Homo sapiens: one gene and its partners. The protein of the gene in region 3 interacts with the protein of the main gene of each other region in a pairwise test. Each region holds a gene or a part of one and is shown on either strand. Other genes may lie near its edges. The genes, in order: CCNL1, SAFB2 and SORBS3.

Region 1 (3,744 bases), on a different chromosome or scaffold from region 3:
AGTCCCAGCTACTCAGGTGGCTGAGGTGGGAAGATCCCTTGAGTTCAGGAGTTCAAGGCCAGCCTGGGCAACACAGTGAGACCCTGGCTCTATAAACAAAAATGGAAGAAAACCAGAAAACTGGTGTCATCAATTGTGTTTAAGGAAACCGAGGCTCCTTTAAAAGTTTGTTATAAAATTATAGATATCTCATAAATATTGAGGTGGAAAGATTCCCTGGAAGCAGCCTAGTCAGAAAGTGAAGACAGTGACATCCAGATAGGTTAATACTTCTGCCAGCACCATAATTACACTCTCTTGGCTGTACATTCCAATCACTCGAAGACAGGCAAAACTGAACCACTGGCTGGGCCCACCTTAAATCAGTGACATCAACCTCTGCAGGCAAGGCTCAAGTATCAGTACATTTTAAAACAACTTTGCCCACTGAAGGTTCACTTAATCAACTGATAAGGCCGGGTGCGGTGGCTCATGCCTGTAATTCCAGCGCTTTGGATGCCTGTAATCCCAGCATTTTGGGAGGCCGAGGCGGGCGGATCACCTGAGGTCAGGAGTTCAAGACCAGCCTAGCCAACATGGCAAAACCCCGTCTCTACAAAAATACAAAAATTAGCTGGACGTGGTGGTGTGTGCCTGTAATCCCAGCTACTGGGGAGGCTGAGGTGGGAGAATCGCTTGAACCCCGGAGGCGGAGGCTGCAGTGAGCCGAGATCGCGCCACTGCACTTCAGCTTGGGCGACAGAGTGAGACTCTATCTAAAAAAAAAGAAAAAAAAAATCAACTGATAACAGGCGATTAACAGGAGAAAAGGGATACATAACACCGGGGTAAAAGCAGGAGGATGATTACCCAGTAGCTTAATGGAGTACAGAAGATTTTATATCTTTTTTTCATAGGGGAAAGGGTAGATGAGAAATGTAGACATTTATTTTGAGGAGCAGCAAATGATTATTAGGAACAATGAATGGACAGAAATTAGTAAATAATTTTCTTTTGAGTAATCTTGTGAAAAAGTCCCTCCAGGAATGGCTGCATTTCTGAGTCTTTTTGAAATAGGATACGAGATTTCAGCGAGGGGAGGAATGCGATTGATTCTTCTACAAAGAGGCTTCTCTAGTCAGGAAAGGAAATTTCAGAGAGTACCTCCCTGCACTTGGGAAAAGTGGGAGCAACAAGTCAAGGTTGGGGGACCTGCATTATGAGGCAGCTTCTAAAGCCTCTGTCTTTGGGGTATCGCTTTCTGAGCGTCAAGAGTAAAACGTGATGCATTCCTTTCCTTCCAACCTAGATTCTAGTAGTTTAGATCAGTATCATTGTTTTTACTTCAAGGTTCAGGAAACGCTGGAAATTGCTAGCTAATATCACAGGAAAAAAAACAAAAAACACGAGGTTGACCTCACCCTACCCGCGGTAGGTAACCATGTATGAATAGAGACTCCCAGGCATAATCAAATTACCTCTGTCAAGTCCTCGCCCTAAGACTATTTTTGGAAACTAGGGATTTTCCAGATTACTGAAAGCCGTGGCGGTGTCAAAGGCCGGGCAGGAGTTTCGCAAGCGGAGCTATGAAAGCAGCCACTCTCGCGGTCATTCCTATGCCTCCGCCCTACTTCCCCATACTGGCAAAAACACGCTCCCCGGGGAGCTTTCATTTGGGAACCGATAGGGTCCACAGCCCTGTGTTCTTCAAATACTGTAAAGCAGCCCTCTCCAGATTCCTTGAGGGTCACTTTATATTACACATTCGTCCACACAGGACAACAAAGTCACCACTTCCACCCGCCAAAGCGCGCTCAGGTCGGCCGCCACTTCCCTTGGTACACGCGGAACGCAAGCCGCGCCGAGGCTAAAGGAAGAGGCCGGAATGCAGGGCGAAGGGGCGCAGAGATGCTAGCCAATGCTGCCACCTCTATTTTGGGTATAAGGGATCTTGTAAAGCTCCGTTATTCGTGTGGCTATCACAAACAAGGTGGTTTCGACCGGCCTTGGCTAGAGAAGGCCTCCTCAGCCTCTGAGGATCCCAAGGTCTGTCGCAGCACCCAACACTCCCCTCGCAGGCCCAGATGCCGAGGGCGGAGGCGCGGCCTGGAGGGACTAGTTGGCGCGCGGCTGCCCGGCGTGGTGACGTCAGGGCGGAAGCGCACGCGGCGTGAAGCGGCCCAGAACCCGGCGGTCACGGGAATATCCGTCGCGCCGAGAACGCTGGTTAGTCTTGTTTCGGGTTCCGGCTGCGTTGGGCTTGCGTGCGGCTCGCTAAGACTATGGCGTCCGGGCCTCATTCGACAGCTACTGCTGCCGCAGCCGCCTCATCGGCCGCCCCAAGCGCGGGCGGCTCCAGCTCCGGGACGACGACCACGACGACGACCACGACGGGAGGGATCCTGATCGGCGATCGCCTGTACTCGGAAGTTTCACTTACCATCGACCACTCTCTGATTCCGGAGGAGAGGCTCTCGCCCACCCCATCCATGCAGGATGGGCTCGACCTGCCCAGTGAGACGGACTTACGCATCCTGGGCTGCGAGCTCATCCAGGCCGCCGGCATTCTCCTCCGGCTGCCGCAGGTCAGTGCTCCGGCCCCGGGCCGGCCGGGCGCTCCTCTCCTCTCCTCCGTCCCCTACGCCGCATCTCAGTATCACCGTGCCCCGGGAGGGTGGGGACGGTTCCTTCAGGCTTTCCCGTTCGGGGCCCAGCCGCGGCCGGGGCGTGCCGGGGCGGGGGGCTGCGGAGGCGGAGGGAGGACTTGGCAGCGGGCTGTTCGCAGCGGCGGCGGCGGCGGGAGGGGAAAGGGAAGCGATCGGCGGCACAAAATGGCGGCGGCGCCTGGAGCGGGCCCGCCTGACCCCTGCGCTTCCGTTCTCCTCTCTTGTCTGCAGGTGGCGATGGCAACGGGGCAGGTGTTGTTTCATCGTTTTTTCTACTCCAAATCTTTCGTCAAACACAGTTTCGAGGTAAGCACAGCGGAGGCGGGTAAAAGGGATTTCTTCATCCGGAAATGGGCAGAGTAGGGGTAGTGTCAGCAGCCAGCTTTTCCAGAAAGGGAGTGGTTTAGTTTAGGCCTTTGTACCTACTTCTCACTCGCCAGGAAGTGGAAACCTTTAGAATGTGGTTCAAAATCGATCACGAGCCTAAGTGCCCTCTTAACGAAAAGTACAGTTTTCAACCAAATGCAGAACTCCTGTAAGATTGAGTTTGACTCTGGAACCAAAATTAAGATGAGTTAAACAACAAAAAGTATAGTACTAGCATAGCTGGTAGACTTACGGCATAGAGATGTCTTCTCTAATTTTACTAAAGGTTGTCCCAATTGTGTTCTAAATTTTATTCTTCAAAGTGAGTTTAATCTAACAATGGCTTTTGTGGCTCATGGGTTCTTTCAGATTGTTGCTATGGCTTGTATTAATCTTGCATCAAAAATCGAAGAAGCACCTAGAAGAATAAGAGATGTGATTAATGTATTCCACCACCTCCGCCAGTTAAGAGGAAAAAGGTAAGATTGGCATTATTGAACATAGTATCTCTTGCTACTGCTGTACCGTGCACCAGTCATCAAATCAAAACATCTTTCCTTTCAAGTGAATACGGATGCAAAAGAAAACGGACTTTAATTTAGGTGTTAAAGTTCATATAGGAACACTGATACTTAAAATAATTTGAAAAAAGAAACATAATTAACCGGTTATCTAAAGTTTGTAGAGGCAGTTGCATTTATGGACAATCCTAACAGTGCTGTGAAGCCAGGCC
Region 2 (3,744 bases), on a different chromosome or scaffold from region 3:
AGTGGGCAAATCAAGGGAAGGGACATTTCCCCAAAGACAGATGTGCTAGTAAGCACGTGAGAAGGTGCTCAACGCCACCCAGAAATGCCAATCCGAGCCACACCGAGATGCTACCTCCCCCTGGCTGGGATGCTAGAATCACACAATAACACACACCGTGGAGGGTGCGAGGAAAGGGAAGAACCCTTGTCCACTGCTGGTGGAAATGTAAAATGGTGTGGCCACTGTGGAAAAGTTTGGTGGTTCTTCAAAAAGTTAAGCGCAGAATTACCATGACCCAGCAAACCCATTCCTACCTGCCAGAAATGAAAACATGGCCAAAGACATCTGTGCATGAATGTTCCTAGCGGCAGGATTCCTAACAGCCAAAGGGAGAAGGACCCCAACACCCATGAACTGATGAGCAGATAACACTATGTAGTGTGTCTGGACCATGGAATGTTCAGCCCTAACTAGGAAGGAAGCGCTGGCCCAGGCAGCATGTGGAGATGAGCCCTGAATACCCAAGGCTTAGGGAGAAGCCAGGCCCAGCAGGCACACCGCGCAGGCCAAGAAATGACTCAAGACGGCAAATCCAGAGCCAGAAAGGGACCTGTGGCTACCAAGGGCAGGGGGGAGGGTGCAGCTGCTAAAAGGGGCAGGGTTTCTTTTGACGTGATGAAAATGCTTCAGAATCAGCCGTGGGGATGGCTAAACAGATCCACGTACACGCAAACCTCCACTGACTGCACACGTGAAACGGGAAGTGTGTGTCGTGTGAACTATACTTAAAGAAAGCTATTTGTTTAAAGTTTCAGACAAACTCTGGGAGATGAAAATCCGAGTCCAGTGTCCTGAGTCCCAAGTGGCCAAGCAGTCACAGTGGCCGTGCAGGAAAGCAGCCAGACCCATCTGCACGAGTGCCTGCCTGCTGTGGGTTGCCGGATGCAGTGACAGTCAGGCCAAGTGAGCCAGCCCACAGGCCCGAGAGGGGCCACCAGAGCCCCCAGCGCGCACTGCCAGGCAAGTGCAATACCGCCCTGGAGGGAGCGGAAAGCTCCCGTGTGGAACCTGCCCTCGGTGACCCGATGGCGCCCAGCCGCTGCTCACCATGGGTGAGTTTCCCGTTTACACTCCCGAGGTATTTACCATAACACCCAGCAAGCGACAGGACAGGAATGCTAATGAAGTCTCACAGGAGAGAACACTTCACACCAACTGATCAGAGCACTGCCACCGTCTGTGCTGCCCAGAGATTCAGGAGAAGCTTCGGGTGTCCTGGGACACTCGGCACAGCACCGAGTCAAAGTCCCTGGCAGAGCTGGAAGTGCCTCTCAGCGCGGAGGGAGGGATGGAACGGGGGAGCACAGGGGGCCAAAACCCACCCTGTGGCGCTGGGCAGGGTCCGAGGCAGCCCTGGGCCAGGGCTGGAGACAAGACAGGACACTCGGCTCACAGAGGAAAGCAGGGCAGCAGCCGCAAAGCAGTCCTGCCACCAGCCTCCTCACGGCCAGCCCAGACGGCAACAGGACAAACAGGCAGGGGTGACTGCAGCTGGCCAAAGAAACTAGAGAGGCACCCAGAGTCCTCCCAGACAAGCCCTGCCCCCCACCAATGCTGACAAGGCTCAGAACAGCACCCCCACTGCAGTGCTGGTGAAGGTGGCTTTGGACACCTGTGGAGGACCTGGCCCAGTGTCCTCAGCCCTGAGTCCTGGGTGGAGGGTCCTCCTAAGTGATTCTAATAGGCAGGATAGGGTTGAGAAGATCCACCCCAGACCAACTGGGGGTCAGAGAAAAAACCCGAGGAAGACACGTGTCAAGAGGCAACGTGGAGGCAGGGGCGAGGCTGCTCTACCACGGACGGGGCAGGACTAAGAGCTTCAGCGCTGTCTCTCCCAGTGTGTACGCAGCCCATGATCGAGACATTCACAACTGCAGGCGACCCCCAGCTCAAGAATGGGGATGGGCCATTCTGGGCGACCTGGACAGCTCCATCCCTGAAAGCCTGTTCTATGCTTTCTTCTTGAGAACCTGGACTTTCTGAGTCAGGGGTTTCAAATGGCAGGACCCCTGGTAGCCCATCCTAAAGCTCCCCTAGCTGAATCAAACCTTGGGGACGTGCCTGGCCAGGCACCAACCTTTTCCCAGGTTAGGACAGATGCTCCCCACCCGGCTGGGGCTCACCCACTAACCTGGGGGGAGGGGGCAGCCCCCGGCCTTCACTCAGCCTCTTGTCGGAGCCGTAGCCCCCCCAGCCATCACGGGAGTCCCGGCCGTGGCGCTCTGGGGGTCCTCCGTGGCCATGGCGGTCATCTCCATAGTGCTGGAAGGCAGGAGAGGAACAGGGTGACACTGACCATGTCACCCACATAGGCCCACCTTCCGGAAGGCCTGTCCACTGCAGGCCCCAGGGTGGCAGGTGGGGCGGAGCTGAGAGAGGACTGAAGGGTGCAGTCTCAGCCCTGCTGGGCCCTGCTTCACTGACCCTCTGCTCCCTGGCTCCCCTCCTCGCACCCCTACAGCTGCATCACTGCCCCACCTGAGCTGCCCCAGGAGCCAGGGCACCCTGGCATTACTGCCCTCAACAGCTCTGCTCAAGATCCACTAAGACGTCACCAAACCCTGTCTTCCCTGAGAAGTTGGGCGCCGCCTCCTTTCCGATAACAGGAGGGCCCTCGGGTGGGTCAGCCCCCCTGTGCTCTGGCAGGGCCACAATTCCGGCCTCCCTGGCCAACCAACTCTGCACGGAGCAGCCAGCAGCCAGGAAGCAGGCGGGTGCTGCCTGCTGTTACAGGCCATTACTCTGCCGCCCACCTCCCACCTCTCCACCAGGCTGCTGCTTTCTCAGAACTCACACCCTGCCACCACGCACGGGGCACCCGCATGGCACCACAGAGACTCAGGGACCATTCTTGTGGTCTTCAGCCCCCCGTGCCCACCAAGCACGGACTTGAAACATGGGGAAGCCCGGGCTCCCCCATCCCCCCGACCCTGGCACATGTGGGCTAAACGACAACCACCATTTGGGTTCTTGGGGGACCCCACAGGCACTAAGACCCAAAGGCTCCCTGAGCAAGTGGACAATGAAGAGACACATGAGGTTTCTACCGGATACAATGAAGAACAAGCCCAACATATTTGAAAATGACAGAAACTTGAGCATTACAAAACAATCAAATATTTGCGCTTTTTTTTTTTTTTTTTTTTTTTGAGACGGAGTCTTGCTCTTGTTGCCCAGGCTGGAGTGCAATGGTGCGACCTCGACTCACTGCAACCTCCGCCTCCCGGGTTCAAGCGATTCTCCTGCCTCAGCCTCCCGAGTAGCTGGGACTACAGGCACTCGCCACCATGCCTGGCTAATTTTTTGTATTTTTAGTAGAGACAGGGTTTCACCATGTCGGCCAGGCTGGTCTTGAACTCCTGACCTTGTGATCCACCCACCTCAGCTTCCCAAAGTGCTGGGATTACAGGCATGAGCCACCACGTCCGACTAAATATTTGTACTTCTAGTCGCTGGCCAGAACCCACACTTGCATACCCGCCACACGTGCTGACTTGGTTGCCACCTCTCTGGGATCAAGCGGCCGCCTGGCTAGAAATGGTCCGCTATGCCTGCACAGCAGTACAGTGGCCCCAGGGCTTGGCATCGGGGCTCTACTCACCTGCCCATCCCGGTGGTCTCCCATCATTGGCCTCGAACCCTCCCGCCTGCAAAAGGAAAAGATCCCGTTCAAACAGCACCAGGCACGACTACACATTTCTG
Region 3 (3,744 bases):
TGCCACCTCCCTTTGTGAGAAACAGGAAGTGGGGAACTTTGTCAGCTCTGCTGCACCCTCTACACTAAATATTTATCTTGGAGTCCAGGTCAGAGCCCTAGAGAATAAGAGAAGCTTGCTGCTGGTGAGGGGGTATGGCCAGGATTCCTGGAGTCGGAAGAGCTTCAGCTTCACCATCTTGGGAGAAGAAGGAAGAAAGTGAAAGCGATGTGGTCCTTCTTAGTCCCAAGGACCCTGACAGGTGGGAAAAATGCGTGTCTAAGAAAATGGGCACCTATTTTATCCCTGAGGGAGGGAAGAGGCTACCTGGCGTGGATAAGAAGGTTTCTAAGCTTCAGGTTGGGGGGCAGTGCACTGCTGCGTCCCTCAAGAAGTGTCCCAGGGTTCCCCCACTGCTCAGCTGTCCTCCACAGCAATGCCCCTGCCATCCCCATCTCTCCGCCTTCCTGGAGAGTCAGAGGTTCTTGGAAGGAGTCTTCAAGGTCATCTTGTTCAGCTCCCCGCTCAGTGCAACAGTTGCCTTTACATAGATGCCCCACAACTGGCAGACTCAGAACCCCTGGAATCATGTAAAAATTTGTCCTGGGAAGCCTTGGACCTGCTTCCCTATGACGTGTCCCCCAGTGGTCCCACTGCTGCTGGTGCAGCTGTGTGTCCACATGGCAGCCCCGCAGGCGCTAGAGGCCAGCAGGCCTATCTGAAGCTTCTCAACCCAAACATCTCCTCCAGCTTTCACATGTGATGTTTCAAGGCAACGGGGAGAGCTTCTTTACCAGAACGAGGGAGAAGATAAGACTAAAGCAGTAATGGTGGTAGGGACTGAAAATCACTTAGTCTTTTCTCTACTCTCTTTCTTTCCAAACTTTGAGTTGAGTGGTGAGCTTGGAAAACACTCCAAAACTCCTCGTGGCCTCTGGCACCAGTCTGACACCCAGTAGGAATGCAGGAGATTACGTTAGTTTTCATAATTTAGCATTGATCACTCCCAGCTCGTAGCTAAAGTTGATCAGTAACTGTTGGTTGGTTGGCTGGTTTGGGGCTTGGGGATCCCTGAGCCAACTCAAGGGCCAGAAAGGATTCCAGAGTGTTTCCACGGTCCTTCAATGTTCCTTAAGCATTCCCACTTTCTGAAGTGCCATACAGAGGCTTGGGGCAGAGACAGGGAGAGGGGATGACCAGAATGGATGGGGAGCCGGAAGGGCCGGGGCTCTGGGGACCCAGCTCAGAGCAGCGAGAACAGCGGAAAAGCAGGCAGATCAAAACAAACACAGTGTCTGGGAACACCAAGACCCTCCTAATCCCATCCCCGCCAAAGGGACCCCACCCTTATCCTCTTTAGGGGCGCGGCACGCCCGGGGGGGCCGCTCCCTTGGGCTGATTTCCTCCCTGTGCTTGCACGTGTGTGAGCGTCCCCACGTTTGCAGTGTACGCGCGCGTGTTTGTTTGCACACGACCGGCCGCGCGCCGCCGCAGGCACACCCTCTCCCCCAGCGCGGAGGGGCGGCGGGGCCTTCCCCTGGTCCGCTCCGCCACTCTGCCTGCGGGGCGCCCTCATCTCGCTCCCGGCCTGTCCGTCTCTCCCGGCTTGCCCAGTTCACCACTCCTGCCCCCTTGTCCTGGCTCCGCCCGGTTCATCGCTCCTGCCCCTGTCCTGGCTCCGCTGCGAGGCCGCTCGCTTCCCACACTCTGGAAATGTCGCTGGAAACTCTGAGTGGCCCGTGTCGGGCCGCCCGACCCCTCCCCGACGCCAGCCCTGCGGTAGGGGCCGGGATGGCAGCTGGGAAACCAGAGAGGGCTCCCCGGGGACCCTCGGCGGCCCCTCCCGGCGCCGCCTCCCCGCCGGCCAGGCCTCCTCGGCAGGGGGCCACCAGTGTCCCCGCGCGCGCCCCGACGGACGGAGAGCACTCGCACGTCCCTCCTCTCCGGCCCAGCCCCGGCCCGCAGTCCAGATCCGAGACCCAAACTCCGCCCGCCCCGCCGCGCGACTCTCACGGTCCGGCCTCCGGCGCGCGCCCCTTCGGCCTCCCTCTTCCTGCGCCGGCGCCCGGCCCGGCCCGGCCCGTCCTGACCCGGTCACGAGGGCCGCGACGGCCCGCGCTTCTCCTTGCCCTTCCTCCTCGAGCGCCCGCGCCAGGCAGCAGCCGGGCAGGGATGCTCCTGCGCTCCCGGGCGGCCTCGGGCCCAGCCACCTGCTCGCCGGGGAAGGTAGGTCCGGGCAAGGAGGGGCGGGGAGTAGGCGAGGCCGGCGGGAGGGATCCGTGCCCAACCCCAGGGAATCGCACCTAGCCCCTCCCCGGGGTCCGCGTCCCAAACTCTGGGAAGTACCTCCCACCAGCCCTCATACCAGAAAAAGCGAAATTCAAGAAAAGCTGTCCTTGTCCACGTGGCCTTGTCGCTGAGAAATACCTGGGAAAGCTCTTAGGGCCAGGCACCCAAGGTCAGGGCAGTGTTCAGAGCAGGGAGGCCAGTGCCCACCCCAGCAGAGCCGCCTCCCCTCTCCCGCTCCAGGGGCCTCTCCCCGCTCCCGGGGCTGGCTGCCTGCCTGGAGGGGAGGTCTGAATTCTGGGAGGACCCCTCCGCTCTCTGCTACATGGGGGACCAGTCCCCAGATGCTGCCCTCTTCCTTGTAAGTCCTCCCTAAGTCTCCTGACCTGGCTGCCAAGAGAAGGACTCGGACCACCCTTCCCTGGAGGTTCCTGTGGTGGGGGGCGACACAAGGGGCAGGGTTGAGAAGGGGCAGATGGGGGCACCAAGGGTAAGCAACCTCTGACTACGGGTCGTGGGGGACCTCCTGCCCTACCCATCCTCCAAGAGAGCAGTTCTCACCGAGCACGAGGTGGGCGGGGAGGTCAGGGAAGGAAGGCGCTGTCAGCTGATGGCCCAGGCGGCAGCTGCTGAGCTGCAATTTGGCCCGAAGCAGTCAGCTGGGCAGGGAGGGGTGCTGCGAGGAGCCGACCAGCTCCAGGTCTCCTGACCTTCCACCCCACCCTGCCTCAACTCCCCCCCGCAAGGGGAGGTGGAGTGTGGGGACTGGGGTGTGTCTGCCTGTTTTGCTTTGGTGGGAGTCCTAATTGGACCCAGCTGGGGAGCTGCTCCTCCTCCAGCCTCAGCCCTCCACTCCCCCCAGTCAGGCATGGGCACAGAAGAGCTGTGTCGCAGCAACTCAAATGTCAGGAGTCCCCACAAACTCAAACCAGAGACAAGGAGCTGCCCCCAGCCTTGGCTACACCCTCGCTAGCCCTGGGCAGGAGCTGGGTCCAGGGGCTGAGTCATCCCAGCCTTATTCTACCTTCATCCCCTCTGGGCCCCCAACTCTTCCACTGCTCACATGACTGCACCTCCCACCACTGTTCAGCTGACACCCCTCTGTACCCACAACCCCCATGCAGCTCATGTGGTCCCTCCGGTGGTCCCCCCAGAAGTCATATTCGCAGCTCTGCACCCAGATTCCAACACACACATACACACAGCTCCTCCCGATGCATTTGCAGCCCTCCCTGAGAGCCCCCAAGGACCCCACAGGCACAGGCAAACCTGATTCCATCCAGTCCTGGGCAGTGGCAGAGCTTGGCTGTTTCTGGTCCAGTCCAGCAGCCAAGACGCGGAGGGATGGACGCCGTAGCACCGTGCTCTGGGTCAAAAAGCCCCCTTGGACACCCCAAACTGGGAGCCCCTTTTTGTCCTCTTGCACCCCCACTCTGGGCTCCCCTCTTGCCCCTCCATTCCCTGGGTGCCTAGGGCTCC

Evidence for each region.
Region 1: the proteins of SORBS3 (region 3) and CCNL1 interact in binary tests that used the Homo sapiens proteins (3 or more experiments, as listed by UniProt).
Region 2: the proteins of SORBS3 (region 3) and SAFB2 interact in binary tests that used the Homo sapiens proteins (3 or more experiments, as listed by UniProt).

The regions. Positions count from the first base shown.
Region 1 is NC_000003.12:157,158,612-157,162,355, reverse strand, and holds the start of CCNL1 (cyclin-L1), read left to right. Parts: upstream 1-2,208; 5' UTR 2,209-2,261; coding exon 2,262-2,564; intron 2,565-2,876; coding exon 2,877-2,951; intron 2,952-3,380; coding exon 3,381-3,490; intron 3,491-3,744. UniProt on the Homo sapiens protein: Involved in pre-mRNA splicing. Functions in association with cyclin-dependent kinases (CDKs). Inhibited by the CDK-specific inhibitor CDKN1A/p21. May play a role in the regulation of RNA polymerase II (pol II).
Region 2 is NC_000019.10:5,588,105-5,591,848, forward strand, and holds part of SAFB2 (scaffold attachment factor B2), read right to left. Parts: intron 3,690-3,744; coding exon 3,644-3,689; intron 2,305-3,643; coding exon 2,174-2,304; intron 1-2,173. UniProt on the Homo sapiens protein: Binds to scaffold/matrix attachment region (S/MAR) DNA. Can function as an estrogen receptor corepressor and can also inhibit cell proliferation.
Region 3 is NC_000008.11:22,549,818-22,553,561, forward strand, and holds the start of SORBS3 (vinexin), read left to right. Parts: upstream 1-2,109; 5' UTR 2,110-2,205; intron 2,206-2,344; exon of another isoform or gene 2,345-3,744. UniProt on the Homo sapiens protein: Vinexin alpha isoform promotes up-regulation of actin stress fiber formation. Vinexin beta isoform plays a role in cell spreading and enhances the activation of JNK/SAPK in response to EGF stimulation by using its third SH3 domain.